2 separate regions of the Homo sapiens genome follow, and region 2 is linked to region 1. The links come from fine-mapping of genetic effects on gene expression. Tissue or cell type: tibial nerve. Region 1 holds a variant in brackets; the other region holds the start of a gene. All regions are shown on one strand. Distances are between the middles of the regions.

What was found. PIP is the estimated chance that this variant, and not a neighbour inherited with it, causes the effect.
Region 2: it holds the start of MIR1915HG, and the variant in region 1 is fine-mapped to the expression of MIR1915HG in tibial nerve (GTEx, PIP above 0.99).

What each region holds. Positions count from the first base shown.
Region 1 is chr10:21,281,115-21,289,219 of GRCh38, forward strand. It overlaps a transcript of NEBL not described here. Among named protein-coding and RNA genes, the nearest start is that of LINC02643, 88 kb to the right of the region's middle. RefSeq lists enhancers at 705-1,383, 1,384-2,060, 4,406-5,165, 5,926-6,685. The variant C/T (reference allele first, on the strand shown) is at 4,697.
Region 2 is chr10:21,494,008-21,502,112 of GRCh38, forward strand. MIR1915HG (MIR1915 host gene) reads right to left here and starts at 3,253. Exons shown (of 2, transcript NR_160800.1): 1 at 2,743-3,253; 2 at 1-1,938. It overlaps MIR1915 (microRNA 1915), which reads right to left and starts at 2,634; the gene lies at 2,555-2,634. RefSeq lists an enhancer at 516-1,309 and silencers at 821-920, 1,734-2,173, 2,224-2,273, 2,484-2,733.

The DNA.
Region 1 (8,105 bases):
GACAAAATGCCTGGGATTCACCAGACCTGGAGGCCTGAGCTGTCAACAGGGATCTAGTGAATCCAGCCTGAGTGAGTGAACTACTTCCTCCTTTTATGAATAATCAGTTTGTCTGCACTGACTCTAATTAGTGTAAATATAGTGAGCTTCCAGCACAAAATACCAAGCATTCTGGCCCAGTGCAAGCCCTTGTTTTTTGGTTTTGGGGTTTTTTGTGTGTGTGTTTTTAGAGAGAAGGGATCTTGCTATATTGCCCAGGCTGGTCTCAAACTCCTTGCCTCAAGTAATCCTCCTGCCTCAGCCTCCCAACTCGCTGGGATTACAGGTACACACCACCACTCTCTGCTGCTTGTCTTTCCTTTTCTTTCTTTCTTTTTTTTTTTATAATTAATAGACATTTTTAGAGCCATTTTAGGTTGACATGAAATGGGGTAAAATGTGCAGAGTTCCCGCACAGCCCCTCCCCAAACACACATTCATCCTCCCCACCATCCACATCCTGACATCCCACACCAGTGTGGGACATTTGTTACCTACATAAACCTACGTTAACATATCACGATCACCTGGAGTCCATAGTTTACTTTGGGGGTTCTGTCTGTGTTGTGCATTCTATGGATTTGGAAAAATGCATAATGATGCACATCCCCCATTTAAAGGAACCTACAGGATAATTTCACTGCCCTAAAAGTCCTCTGTCCTCCCCCTTCTCATCCCTCCGTCCCTTCAAGCCCCTAGTCACCAACAGTCTTCTTACTGTATCCATAGTTTTGCCTTTTCCAGAATGTCATGTAACTTTTCCTTTTGAAAAATAAATTCCTTTCTTTTTAAGTAATACACGTGAAGGTACAACAAACAAAAGATGCAATTGTTTTAAAAGTTTCCCTCCTTCTGTCCCACAACCATTCCTCCAGCCTACCAATTTCTTCCCATTCCTATAGATGCAAGTGTGGGATTTGTGCGTATGTGAGACTTTTGAAGGGAGAGGTTGAAAATGAGGTGCTAGCAAGACAGTTAGCCAAAGAGATCAGTAAACATCTGCAACAATGGAAGAGGAATTCCAGTGACAGGTCAGAAGTGAATATGTAGATTTAGGAGCCTCTGCCCAGCCGGTGACTGCTGTGAATGGATGAGCTCTCTGCGGGGGTAGAGAGCAGCAATCCAGGCCTTGGGGAATTCCTTCATTACAAATATTTATTAGTACCTACAATGCAAGAGGCTCCGTAGGGAGCACAAACCTAAGGAAAGGTGCAAACAAACAAAACCAAGCTTTGGTCACAGAGGCAAAAGGGAGGGACGGCTACCATAGTGTCAGGGAATGATGCCAAGGAAAGAGCTCCCAGGAAGGACGAAGTCATACCTTTGCCACCAGATCAAGAAGTTAAGGCCAAAGGCAGGGGGGAAAAAAAAGAAGAAGAAGCAAAAAGAAGCATTGATGACAGAAAGTTCAGCTGGAGCCTGAGGAACAAAGCCATATATTGAATTAATAGGGACTGTGCAGTGAGGAACTAGAGGCTGAAGAAAGACCATTTTACAACAGGTCATATTGTCAGAGGCGTGTGAACCTCTGAGCAACTCCATGTTGAATAGGAGCTGGGTAAAATGAGGCTGAGACCTACTGGGCTGCATTCCCAGACAGTTAAGGCATTCTAAGTCACAGGATGACATAAAGGGTCACCACAAGATACAGGTCATAAAGATATTGCTGATTAAAAAAAGGTTGCAATAGGCAGGGCGCAGTGGCTCACGCCTGTAATCCCAGCACTTTGGGAGGCCGAGGCAGGCAGATCACCTGAGGTTAAGAGTTCGAGACCAGCCTGGCCAACATGGTGAAACCCCTTCTCTACTGAAAATACAAAAAATTTTAAAAAATTAGCCAGGCATGGTGGCATGCACCTGTAAGCCCAGCTACTTGGGAGGCTGAGGCAGGAGAATAGCTTGAACCCAGGAGGCAGAGGTTGCAGTGAGCAGAGATCATGCCACTGCACTCTAGCCTGGGCGACAGGGCAAGACTGTGTCTCAAAAAAAAAAAAAAAAAAAATTGCGGTAAAGAAGCCAGCTAAAACCCACCAGAACCAAAATGGCAACAAGAGTGACCTCTGGTTGTCCTCACTGCTACATTCCCATTAGCGCCATGACGGTTTACAAATAAATGCCATGGCAACAACAGGAAGTTACCCTATATGGTCTAAAAAGGGGAGGCATGAATAATCCACCGCTTGTTTAGCATATCATCAAGAAATAACCATAAAAACGGGCAACCAGCAGCCCTTGGGGCTGCCCTGTATACAAAGTAGCCATTCTTTTATTCCTTTACTTTCCTAATAAACTTGCTTTCACTTTACTCTACAGACTCCCCCTGAATTATTTGTTGCGTGAGATCCAAGAACCGCCTCTTGGGGTCTGGATCTGGACCCCTTCCCTATAACTTTGGAGCCTGTGGTATTCCAGAATTTGGATGATTTTTGGTTTTAGAAAGGTTATAGAGTACATATATTCTATTATATTCCATGTAACACACCCAGCAGAGTCTGGAATAAGACCCCTCAATCAAACCTATTAATATTTCTGCAGTGAATCATATGAATATTCATACCAAGTGGGATAGGTAAAGACTACAAAATTTCAGCTTCTCCTTAAGAAAATCTTTTGGGTTTTCAGAGCTTCTTAGACTTCAGAACAGATAAGGGACCTGAGCTGAATTTCTTTTCAGGGCTTAGGTAGAGCAGCATGGGTTTATTTTAGGTCTTAGACTGCAACAAATAGTGAAGGTCCTCCATCGGACTCTAAGTGGCTTGGCCAGTCGGGCATGGTGGCTCAAGCCTGTAATCCCAGCACTTTGGGAGGCCCAGGTGGGTGGATCACTTGAGGTCAGGAGTTCGAGACCAGCCTGGTTCAACATAGCAAAACCTAATCTGCACTAAAAAAAAAAAAAAAAAAAAAAAATGAGCCAGGTATGGTGGCTCACGCCTGTAGTCCCAGCTACTCAGGAAGCTGAGGCAGGAGAATCTGTAGAACCCAGGAGGCAGAGGTTACAGTGAGCCGAGATCGCACCACTGCACTACAGCCTGGGTGACAGAGCAAGACTCCGTCTCCAAAAAAAAAAAAAAAAAAAAAAACGAAAATGAAGTGGCTTGAAGACAGAATTCAGTCTGATGATATTTCCTTGGCACATAGTGCATGTCCACTAATTTCAGCTGCACTGAGCTTTTGTTCTTTCTAATCATTACAATGCCTAGGCCTGATCACCGTCCCAACTTGGCTCTTCCTGCAGCCCACCCTCCCAGCCCAAGTCAGCCCAAGTTCCAGAATTACTCCTCCATTGATATGCAGCAAGCACATCTTATTTCTCTTCTTAAATCCAAACTCAATAGCCATCTGTTTGTTCTGGTATTCTAGCACTAATTGCCATTCCTGATTTTGTTTGATATATTTGACCTGGTATTTTAGAACTAACTCTTAATTGTGTTTTTATTTAATATGGATAGCACACATAAAGGAAGAGCACAAGGAGTGCTATATAAATGCAAATTTTATTGTATTTCACTCTAGACCTCAGAGACTCGCCAAACTTGGTTCTACTCTGAAGAAGTTTTGCCCTAAAGGGGTTAGGGAGGCTTCCTCACTCTCCCTTGCACAGCTTCCTCAAAGCTGGACTAATAAAGACATGAAAACCCATCATATTCAAGCCAACTGGTCTACTGAGTTTTGCATCAAAATTAACAAATCTCACATTAGATCATGATTTTTTACATCCTGTTTTTGTGAACTGATTGTGCATTTTGTATGAAAAAGCACCATTCACAGGGCATGGTGGTTTGTGCCTGTAATCCCAGCTACTTGGAAGACTGAGGCAGGAGGATCTTTGAGCCCAGGAATTTGAGGCTACAGAGCTATCGTGGTACCACTGCACTCTAGCCTGAGTGACAGAGCAAAATCCCACCTCTATAAAATAAGAAAAGCACCATCCTAACTGAGTCACTATGACATTGTTTAAAGTTTAAGTTTGCATTGTGGAAAGGACTATTTTAATTTTCTGTTTTTCGAAGGACAGATTCATGGTTACAGAAGTGTGCCATTATCGAGTAGATCATTGGTGCAGCTTGTAAGGCTTGTGAAAGAAAAATAAATCTTGGGGCCCCAAATCACTAAGCTAAAGGGAAAAATCAAGCTGGGAGCTGCTTAGGGCAAACATCCCTCCTATTCTATTCGAAGTCACCCCTCTGCTGACTGAGATAGATGCATATCTGATGGCCTCCCTTGGAAAGGCTAATCAGAAACTCAAAAGAATGCAACCATTCCTTTCTCGCCTACCTGGAAGCCCTTCCCCATCTTCCTGCCTTTGCTTCAAGTTGTCCCACCTTTCCAGACCGAATCAGAGTGCTTCTTACATATACTGATTGATGTCTCACATCTCCCTAAGATATATAAAACTAAACTATGCCCCAACCACCTTGGGGACATGTCGTCAGGACCTCCTGAGGCTGTGTCATGGGCATGTCCTCAACCTTGGCAAAATGAACTTTCTAAATTAACTGACACCTGTCTTGAATTTTTGGGCTTCACAGGCTTCACTGAAATTTTTCAAGATAAGCTGTTCTACTTCCAGGAAGTGTCTAAAGTCGTTATTACAATGAGATTTCAGATCATGTAAGAATCAAGTAAGGCATCAATCACTAAAGCAAAGGAGTCACTC[C/T]TGTGACTCATGAATCATCCCATTTAGGGGCCACTGAGTCACCATGCCATGCTTGGCTGCTATGCTGTAAACAGCCACCCCGGACCCCACACCCTGTGAGAGTTAAGTGCATCCACTGTCCAGGGTCTTAATTTTGAACTTCTCGCCCTGACCCATTCCTCAGGCCACATTCCATGCGGGGCTCAGACCTTCTGGCTTTTTACATCACCGCTCATTCTTCCATCTCTGGTTCTCCCCCTCTCTTTAGACTTGGCCTTCAGATTTTCTTCCTCACTATGACCTTGGCTCTTTCTCAGCCTATCTGTGACTGGATGAATGAATGGATTTTATTTTCTATTTTCTCTTAGTCACTGATTTCATCCTATTGTGTTCTTGAAACAGTCTAATAAGTTATACATGTCTGCAATGGGAGCAGCATATTTGGTTTTCATCACTGGAGACAGAAAATACTTGCCATTTCAGGAATCTTTTTATCTTTAATGATTTATTTAATAACATTCTTTGTAGCCCAGAGCTGGTCTTGGAAAATTACTAACATTCTCCATTTGTGGGGCACGGCCAGGCCAATGAAATGCTACCAACATTGTTATGTCTCCATTGATATCCTATCTGAAGAAAATTGCCATATTAAGAAAGATGTTCTGTTACTAAACATGTTATCTTGCATGTATCACCGTGAGGTTGACATGCCTCTACCCCTGCTTTTGGCCTTTAGCAGACTGGATTCAGACTATAGCTATAGCAGGGCGCCATGGCTCACGCCTGTAATCCCAGCACTTTGGGAGGCCAAGGCGGGTGGATCACAAGGTCAGGAGATCGAGACCATCCTGGCTAACACAGTGAAACCCTGTCTCTATTAAAAAACACAAAAAAATTAGCCAGGCGTGGTGGTGGGCACCTGTAGTCCCAGTTACTCGGGAGGCTGAGGCAGGAGAATGGCGTGACGTGAACTTGGGAGGCGGAGGTTGCAGTGAGCCGAGATGGCGCCACTGCGCTCCAGCCTGGGTGAAAGAGCAAGAATCCATCTCAGAAAAAAAAAAAAAGCAGACTACAGCTATAAATACTGTAGAAATCATACAGGAACAGACAATTTGACCTTTGTTCACACCAGAGTGGAGATGGCAGTAGCGACAAGTGTGACCAACAAAGGGTGGTGGGGAGGCAGAGGGTACAGACCAGAGGATTATTCAAAAAGGTCAAGATCCAAGTAATCAGAATGAGAATCTGAGCAGAATTCCCTAATAAGAACCAAGGCTGGTTACGGGTTCCAGAAGCTGAAAATCCACAACCAGAAGCAACCGTTAACAGAGAAGCAAGTACCGGCATCCATCACAAAGACCAGGAGGTCAGCAGTGGCAGGTCAAGGGAAAGAATCCAGGAAGTCATGAGAACTCCCATAAAAGAAGTGGAAGCTAAGAGCCTTGGTCAAGAGCCAGAGGGTTAGGCTGGGCTCAGTAGTTCATGCCTGTGATCCCAGAATTTTGGGAGGCCGAGGCAGGTGGATCACTTGAGGTCAGGAGTCTGGGACCAGCCTGGGCAACATGGTAAAACCCCATCTCTCCCAAAAATACAAAAACTAGCCAGGCAGGGTGGCATGTTCCTATAGTCCTAGCTACTTGGGAGGCTGAGGCAAAAGAATAGCCTAAGCCAGGGAGGTGGAGGTTGCAGTGAACCAAGATTCGGCCACTGCTCTTCAGCTTGGGTGACAGAGTGAGACTCCGTGGAAAAGAAAAAGAGTCAAAGGGTTGAAAGTATGTTCAACTCTACATACAATAAGAGAAATGCAAGTAAAATTAAAATTATAATGGGAGACCATTGAAAGTATTCATTAAAAATCTAATCAAACCCCTATAATCCAGATATATCACTTCACAGGAAATACAGGAGATAGAAGAAATGTTAAATGTTAGTACATACTGAATTGGCAAAATCAAGACTGAAAATAAATCTAGAAGACAAATAACGACATTCTCTCAACAACAACAAAAAAATTGCAAAGAAAATAGAAGAGATGGAAAAAGGGTACAGCTGTCAACCAACTGCAATGTATAGACCTTATTTGGATCCCAGTGCAAAAAACTGTAAGAAAATAAAAATTATGAAACCATCTCTGAAAAAAAATAGGCAGAGCATATGTTCATATCCATATACTATGTGAGTTATTCCAGGCAAGCTATTAATCTGTCTCAATTTTCTCTTCTGAAAAGCAATGAATAATGCAATGTATCCCCATAGGATTGTGAGAATTAAGAGATAATGCATATAAAGTGCTTAGCCAAGTACCTGGTACCTAGAAACCATTAAACAAATGGTAATCATTATGACACCAGTAATCAAAGGAGTGAAGTAATAACAAGACATGAAAATCATTGCTGCCAGCCGGGCATGGTGGCTAACACCTGTAATCCCAGCACTTTGGGAGGCCAAGGCGGGCGGATCACTAGGTCAGGAGTTCGAGACCAGCCTGGCCAACATAATGAAACCCTGTCTCTACTAAAACTATGAAAATTAGCCAGGCATGGTGCCAGGCATCTGTAGTCCCAGCTACTTGGGAGGCTGAGGCAGGAGAATCACTTGAACCCAGGAGTCAGAGTTTGCAGTGAGCCAAGATCGTGCCACTGCACTCCAGCTTGGGTGACACAGTAAGCCTGTGTCTCAAAAAAGAGAAAAAGCCCGACGCGGTGGCTCATGCCTGTAATCCCAGCACTTTGGAAGGCTAAGGCGGGTGGATCACGAAGTCAGGAGTTCAGGACCAGCCTGGCCAAAATGGTGAAACCCCGTCTCTACTAAAAATACAAAAATTAGCCGGGCCTGCTGGCAGACACCTGTAATCCCAGCTACTTTCGAGGCTGAGGCAGAGAATTGCTCAAACCCAGGAGGCAGAGGTTGCAGTGAGCCGAACTCATTCCACTGCACTCTAGCCTGGGCGACAGAGCGAGACTCCATCGCCAAAAAAAAAAAAAAGAAAAAGAAAATTATTACCATCTGACAATATATACGTGTGTGTGTGTATATATATATATATATATATATATATATAAAAATTTTTTTTTTTTGAGACGGAGTCTTGCTCTGTTGCCCAGGCTGGAGTGCAGCGGCAGGATCTCAGCTCACTACAACCTCTGCCTCCCGGGTTCAAGCAATTCTCTGCCTCAGCCTCCCGAGTAGCTGGGATTACAGGTGCCCACAACCAAGCCTGGCTAATTTTTGTATTTTTTAGTAGAGACAGGGTTTCACCATCTTGGCCAGGCTGGTCTTGAACTCCTGATCTCGTGATCCACCCGCCTCAGCTTCCCAAAATGTTGAGATTACTGGCATGAGCCACTGAGCCCGGCCCTTTTTATATTTTATGATAGGGCAGTAATCAGGACTTAAGCCCGGTTGTTCCCAAACTGGAAAGAATGAGCAG
Region 2 (8,105 bases), 210 kb after region 1:
AGCAGGGCGCGAGGTAAGTGGAGAGTTTGCCCGGGTGCTGGGTGATGTGCCCAGCAACTTCTGCTTTTTCCCCTGGGGAAAACTGTGACATTCGAAAGGTGTCTGCAAGTGTTTCTTCTGGTTGGCCTGGAAGTTTCCCGAGTCCCTGGACTGGCGACCCAAACTCCTACACTTCCTGCCCGGTGCTGGGAAGAAACCCAGATCAGCAGACAAATCAACCACACCCTGAGCCCCAACATCGAGCTCCAACATGTGCCTTTCCCGCCGAACGAGAAAGCGCGGACCCCTTGCAAGCAGCATATAGCCTCGGCGTGACCCGTGGAGAGGCGGGACCCCAGTGGAGAGAGAAGCACGGAGAAGCCTGGGAAGGAGCTTGGTAAGAGGGGCACAGTCCAGGCTGCCCCATGCGCGCTGGGGTTGTCGCCGCGCCTCCTGCGCGCCCCAGTGCCCCCAGAATCTCCAAGAAAGCAATCGTGAGCGCGGATCAGTTTCTGTCTTTCCCAGAAAGCGGGCTTTTTATTGAGGGGAAACTTAGCTGGGAAAAGTCAGCTCGTACGTTTGTTTTGGTTTTTCGTCTATTTGCTTCCCAATTTAAAAGTGGCCGCCTAGGCGACAGGCCTGCGGTTTTCACAGTGTAAAACGGATCAGAGGGAAAGCTCCAGCCCCTCTCGACTTTCGCTTGCGGTTTGCAACCCCTGGGGTGGGTCTGACCCCGCGCGGCACTTGCCCAGGCGAGCTTCCCTCGTCGCGGCCCGACCCGCGCGCGGACTCGGCTTCCCCAGGTCAGGACCCACTAGGTGGGCCGCTCGGCCCCAAGCCTGGCAGGGCGGAGCCTAGGCCGCGCGCCCCGGGGTTGGAGGTTCCCACGGAGCCGGGAAACTGCGCGCCCCAGGTCCGCAGGCCGCCTCCCTTCCCTCGCGCCCTCGCACCCGCCCTCTGCTCTGCCGCTCCCGGTCCTGGGTGTGCGGGAGTCCCGGGGGTCCCTCTCCTGGACGCAGAGGAGGAATTTGGAGCAAAAGGAAGGGAATTTACTGCGGATGGCACCGGAACCTGAATTGACTTGTGCGTTTCCTGCTCTGGGCACGTAGGTTTCCCCTAGGAATCTGGAGTTCGCTGAGGACACTTAATTCCAAGAGATGATGGGTTCACATAAACATACCATTTAGTTAAGAAAAATATTTAAAATAAAGAAAAAAGAAAAACTGAACTTCGATCTTCTTCTCCACGTTCCCTGGTGTCACCAAATAAACAAAGCATTCGGACGAGAGTGGGCTGCTGGGGGCTCGGGAGGTGCGCGAGACAAGGTTACCCTGCGGGTCCGCCACTGCCCCCGGCCTCCAGCACTGCACTGCCCACGAGTTTGCGGGGTGTGAGCGCCGAAGGAGAACCCCGGACCGCCCAGTCTCAGCCTAAAAACTTGGATCCAAGAGTCCTACGGTTGTGGATGTGCCAGTCCTCCGCGACCCTTTCCTGCTGGCCTTCTGCTTTTTATAAACGAAAATAAAAGTTTGATTTAGGCTTAAAGAAATGTCATTCTGGTCGTTCCTCCCTGAAGCGGGACTTACTCAACCTCATATACTCGCCCGGAATTTTCAATCTCGCCTGTCGAAATCGCTAGCTGCGCATCCGCGGAAGAAGTCCTGGATGAGAGGTAGGGTGAAGGGATCAAGCAGATAGCAGCAGGCATCAGCACACTCCGGCCGTTCCGGACGGTCAGGCCCGCCGCTACAGGGAGAAGTGCGGCGGATGGAGCCAGGGCTGCGGGTTGCGCGCGGGCTGGGAACCCGGTGGTGCCACCTTAAGAGTCGGGTCCGCGCAGCGGCTGCGGAGGCGCCCGGCACCTGCAGGGGGCGCTGCTGCCCCGTGGTTTCTCCCGCGCCGCCGCGTGCAGCGGGCCTGGCAGCTCCGGGGCCCCGGTCCCCGGAGGGGGTGGGGACGCTGGGGGAGGAAGGGAGCGAAGTGCAGCCGTTAGGTAACGAACCCGAACCCTCCCGGATTCAGAAGCGGCCTCAGTGAGGCGTTTGCTGGAGGGAGCTTTCCATCATTCGGCCGCGAGAGGAAACGTGGGGAGGCGCCCTCCCCTGCCCCCACCGCCTGCCTTCCTGCCTCCCTCCACCTCCGCTCCCCGACCCCGACCGTGCTTCCCAGACCCTTTGTTCTCGAGGTTGGGAACGGCTGGGTGGGGGTTCCCCGGGGAAGAGGTCCCCCGCGCCGCTCGGAGGGGAAGGGACTGTCGCCTGCCCCGCACCCCAGCCCTCCCCAGTGCCGTCCCCCTTTCCCCCGGCCCCTTCCATCGCGTCCACGCGCTTCCGTTCTCACTCGGACTCCCCCAACTCCCGAGCTCCGGCTCCCCAGCCTGCACGGTCTGCAAGCCCGCCTCCCTTCCCACTTCCCCGCCACCTCTGAGGTCCCCGGGAAGAGGGGAGGAGAGGGAGACGTGTGGGGGAGGAGAAACCACAGAGCCTTCTCGGCGCGGAGCATTCCCAGGGACCCTTCCAGGCCCCGACCCCTGGGACCCGCTGCAGAGGCAGGGCTTTCCCGGCGCCGCCGCAGGTCGCTAGGGCCGCCCCCGCCGCGTCGCCCTGGGGCCCACGGGTGCACGGCCCGGGCAGCAAGGCAAGGTGCGGCCTCTCAGCGCCAGGACCCGAGACCCCCAGCTGGAGAGAAGGGGACACCGTGGTCCGCGCCCTGGGGAGGCTAATTGCACACGAACGCCCCCCTCTTCCCCGCCCCCCACCGTACCCTCTGCAGCGCCACCCGCGTCGCCTCTCCGCCGTGCGCCACCCTGAGGGCTCCCGCGATTGCATCTTCTTGAGCACAGTTACCAATGCGTTCAGCTTCGTTTCTTACTCGGATGGAGACATCGCGGAGGGAAGCGAGGGGACAGGGATGCGGTAGTAGGGGAAAGGTGGGGCGGGAAACCGAGCAGAGAGGTGGGAGACTTGGCTGAGGCAATGGCACCAGGCAGGGCCGCCCGGAGTCCCGAGTCCAGGTCCGCGAGGCAGGCCCCGGTGCAGCCGCGCCCCGGCCGAACCCTACATGTCCTCTGTACTGTGGACACGAGTCCGCGGAGCGCCAGTCACACCCCCGCACCCCTGCAAGCTCCCGCCGTAGAGGGGGCTCGGCACCATCCTGGTCACAAAGTACGTGCCCCCACCCCCCACCCCCAGGTGAAGAGGACGCAGCCCGGCGCCGTCAGCTCCAGGCTGCCTGGAGCCCCCTCCGGCCTCTCGGCGCGACCCTGGTCCTCAATGGCTCGTCGCGAGCTGCGCTAGCTGCTCTCTCGGCAGCGGGTTCCCCAGGACACACCCAGTCCCCACCCCCCGAGAGCTGGCGGCCAGCTCAGGATGCCAGGCGGCCAGGCGGGCGCCCTGCCAAATTCCGCGTTCCTCTCCAGGAGACGGGGAGTTGCGTCCCAGGCTCGGGAAAGCCCGCAGTTCGGGCTTGGGACTCGCTTACAAAGCCCCCCAAGGCGCCAGGGACGCCTCTGCAGGTTGAATTCCTGCTCCGTATCACTTCAATTTTAATTAATCTTTTAAAACACCGCTGTCACGTCGCTTGCAGAAAATTAATCAAACTTGAATCCTTGTTGCATAGCAAGAATTTCGATCCGAGTCTTTTAAAAAGGACTTGACTTTGCAAAGTCACGTCTTTTACAGTTCCCTCATTCCCCCTTTAGCAAGGGAAATACTGCAAAAGTCAAGACATGTTTGTTTGGTTCTTTCTATCTTCAAAATGAAACTTTGCTTATTTCTGATCTTTATTTTCCTGTCTTTGAACAAAAAAAAATAACGAGATAAATTGCCTACCTCGATTAATTCAAAGTATAATTACTTTGAATGATCTTTGTTTAAGAGCCCAGATAAACTAAGATAATCTTAATTTTAATGTGACACGACCCCTATTTTTCCTTGTGAATAATGAGAATAAAGCAGTCATTAATTAATACCAAGATATCTCCATAGAAGATGGTATCTGTTCTCGCTGAGACACTGAAACATCAGTTGTATTAGTAATTGATACTGTATAATTGAACATGAAGATAGCCGTCTATTTTTAACCTCCAAGCTCAGAGTTTATTTGGTGATTATTGAGCTCCTAATAATTAATTTTTTTCCTTCTTACTGCATAAATAATTCTTACGACTCCCAGTTCCCATGCAATGCAGAGGCTTCTCATTAAAACCTACCCCTCAAAATATAAGATTGTGAAGCTATATTGTGCAGCAACTCCTTCTATTTCATTATTTGTAACATATTTCCTCTATTTCATATCTTCCTGGTGCATTTCCTTTGCTGTGATTTTCCTACTAAATCTATGAGAATATAACTATAACATCTTTTACCATAGCTTTGTCTTTCTGTGATCTCTTGGTTCAGTTTAATACACAATACTTAAGACTTCAATTTTTCAAGTTACTAAAATTTGAGGATGAGTTCCACTGAAGAATCAAAAATACTTGTATAGTGAAGTTGCCATGGATTATATTCCCAACCTAACACACAGTCCACTTTAACTCACACTTTTCTGTTGTTAAAAATAGACTTTGCTCAAACACATTCCCTTTTTCCAACTTGAGTTGAAGAGAGTTCTCACAATTTCCTGGGTTAAATGTACATGCTAACACAACCTTTGACATTAAAAAACAAATTCCCCTCCCGCGTTGGAGAGAAGTCTTCCAAACAGTCATGGAAATTTAGACTGTAGCTTTAAGGTATCTAATTATTTCTTAGCCTCAGTTATTTTGGGGCATCAGAATGATCTTCACTTTTTAAGTGGAAATGGTTATGATATTTTTCTCATACATACAAAAAACTCTCTACTTATTTTTCCAATAAAGTGTCTCCCAAGTATGACATGTTGTATACCACACAAATATTCTTAGTACCTCCGCTACCAAATCCATGCATTTTCCCTGTCAGTGCTCTATCTAAAATTCTGGAAAGTATAGAGGGTTTCCACTTTTATTTCCCCCTTAGTACAATTAAAACTTTAGGTCAATATATAACGGAGTGATTCTCTGCACTTGGATTTTATATTTTCCCACTATAATTTGGACTGGAATGGGATTAAAACAGCATCTAGAGTTCTAATCTTGGTTGATGTTTTGGTGTATTCACCGTAATGAGTCCTATTCTCTGGGGTCATGAAGCTCCCAAATGTCAATCAAGCAAACAGATTCAGAAATGCCATTGTTCGACTCCCACGTCACTCGCCTTCCTCTCATTTTATTTAACAATACCGGAGTTCTCTGATCAGTCATTCGGAATATGAGGCATTATCTGGGGAAAATTCACAAAGTGTCTTGATCTTTCTTTGGGAGATACTGTTAAGGGGTTTCCGCAAAGCATAAAGTGCTTGTTTATATTTCTGTCTTTGGACCGCACTGTGGATGGAAAGAACCAATGAATACTGCTTGAAAGGAAATCATACCGTAAATCCGTCAAAAATTAATTCGTCCAGTTGAATGTTACATTTCTATTTTCTGTTTTCGTGTTGGAAGCACCCTGATTTGTCACCAGAGGAGAAGTATGACCAGGTCTGGGTCCAGTTGACATGCCCCCACGTTCAACCCTGTCTATTTTCACCACTTAATACTATTAATGTGTTTAGTCTAAACTAGTTAACTAAGAATTTATTTGGGGGCGAGGAAGAGCCAACCTTTGCCCTGGGAGTTCTACCCAGCCCACTCAGCTACGTCCGGGAGCCTCCGCAACTCGCATTTCCCAGTCGCAACCCTGGGTCATTCCTGCCTCCGTCCCAGCTCCCGGACAATTCCCAAAGCCAAAGGCGTCGAGCGTGTTACTGGCTCCCACCAGCCCAAATTAATAATCAGCTTAACTCGTGGAGGCTTTGAGCCCCAGTGCTCCGTTCCCTGAAGCCTCCCAGTGCGGAGCCCGGCTCCTGCGAGGACATCCTTGGAGGGGGGCCGGGGCGCAGGGACGGATTTCCTGGGAAAAATTGTCGCTGGCGTGTTGCACCTAGAGGGCTGTGGGCAAGGAGGCACGCACCAATGTCCCAGTTCTGGGCTCTCAGATCGGGATTCCTCCAAAATCGCGACAGCCGCTCAGGTGCTGGGTGCTCACGTTGGCAGCACAGAGCGCCAAATGCACGACCCCGCGCGCCGCGCGCGACCTCCACGCACACTTAGAGCCGAGGTGACAAGGGAAGGCGGCGGGGGTGGAGCCGCTCTCTGGTGGAGCATGATCAATCACTTTAAAGGGTTCAAAAGTTCCAAGTTCCCCTTTGGAGGGGAGAGGTAATGCTTCCCGCGGCCTGCTTCTCTCTGAGACCCGCGGGTTCCCGGCAGCCGCGCAACCACTGGGGATCTCGGCTGCCGCTTGCGGGAGCCCCTTCCGGGGAACACGCTCTCCGGGCCGCGCAGCCGGGCGAGGTTGACGCAGCTGCTAGGGGGCAGTTTGGCTTCCCCGGGAGTACCGGAGTCGCTCGGCAAAAACGTGATCTCAGCCTGCAGGGCCCGGGGCGCGCGCTTTTCCCTTTCTCAGCAAGCGGGAAAGGCCTGTTGGCAGAGGCCGGCGGAGTGCTGGCGGCCTGGCGGCTGGAGGCTTCGGCGGAAACCTGAGCTCCCTGCGACCTGTTCTGCTAGCAGGGGCGGGGGAGAGCCCCAATAAGCCGCCCCAGAGGCGGACCGTGCAAATTCCTAAGAAAAAGCCCTCTAGAAAACACCAAGCCCTTCCAAAAGCCGTGGCTCTGCCCCTCCCCCGTCCTGCGGCCTTCCATCCTGGCCCCTCGCATCACCCAGCCGGCCCTCACCTGCTACCTGGCCAAGGGCCTAGCCACCCCTCTGCGTCCCCGCCCCTGCTTTTAAGCTCCTTCTCCCCCTGACCTTTCTGAGGCCTGGGCGAGGGTAGCCAGGGTGCTGCAGAGGAAATGAAATTGTTCTGGAGATTACAGTGGGGCTTTGGGCCAGAAGGGTTTTTCCCCTTCTTTTTCTCAAGCTTCCATGTTAAGTGCAAACTTGTATCTCCCGTCACAAGAATAGCCAAATTTTCTCGCTTATTTGCAGTTTTGCAAAGTTCTACACACAGATCAGTGAACCTTAAGCGCCCTTGTTCAGCCCCACATTGTGGAGGTTTGTCAGGGTCCCTGGGCAGTGAGCGTAATGACAGGTGAATCCAGCAGCCCCAGGGGGAGCCCGACCTAACCCCAGGACTTACAATAGGCCAGGGGGCCAGAGGCTCCCCACACAGCTTCCAGCAACAGGTACTCTACACCAGGGCAGGCCTACAGGGTCCTTCGGCTTAGGCACTGCCCCTAGAAACTGCTTCAGTGACCTGGGACAGAGAGGCCCCACCCACATGTCTTCCCCCAAGGAGATTCCTTCTCTCCAAATTACCCCTCGGTCACACAAGAACAAGAATCTCTGCGCTCTGTGCCACCTGTCCAGACACAGCCAGGCCTTGTTTCAGCTGCAGCAGAGGCCCTCACAATGTAAGCCCATTGGTGCTTTCAACCTGCTTGTTCTTCTGACATGATTTAAAATAAAGAAGAGGAGGAGGAGGGAAGGCAGAAGAAGAAGCAGGGAAGAGGAGGATGGGGGGTGGGGAGGAAGAGGAGCAGGGGAGATGCAGAATAAAAGATGGCCAAAGGGGATCAGCACAAAATGGAACAACTCCTTTCTTATCCAAATTGCCCCATAACTCAGTCTTTCCCACACTCTAAAAGAGGGATAACTGGTTTCAATAACTATTAATACTTTCTCGAAGTAACTTTTTTGAGTGAATTTTACTCTTGCACCTGACTGGAACCGACCTACCCCTCTCCCCAACCTGAAGAGAGGAATGGGCCATGTACCTTTGGGGAGATAAATAGCTTTATAAGGCATAATAGCCTCCCTGTAGCCAGTCATCACTCCACAGAAAGCCAGGGAGATTCAAGCTGTGAGAACCCAGGTGCTTTGTTGCATAACCAATCTCAGCCTTAATCCAGCCAAGGTCAGCCCACATTAGATTCCCAAGAAATGGGCTTAAGGTTCCTCCTCCTGTCTGGACCATTCACAGGTAAGGAGATCCTCACAGAGAAATACATCTAGTACTTACAACCAAACTCCAAGTGGGAGCAAGTCATCATTGTGATGAGAGTAG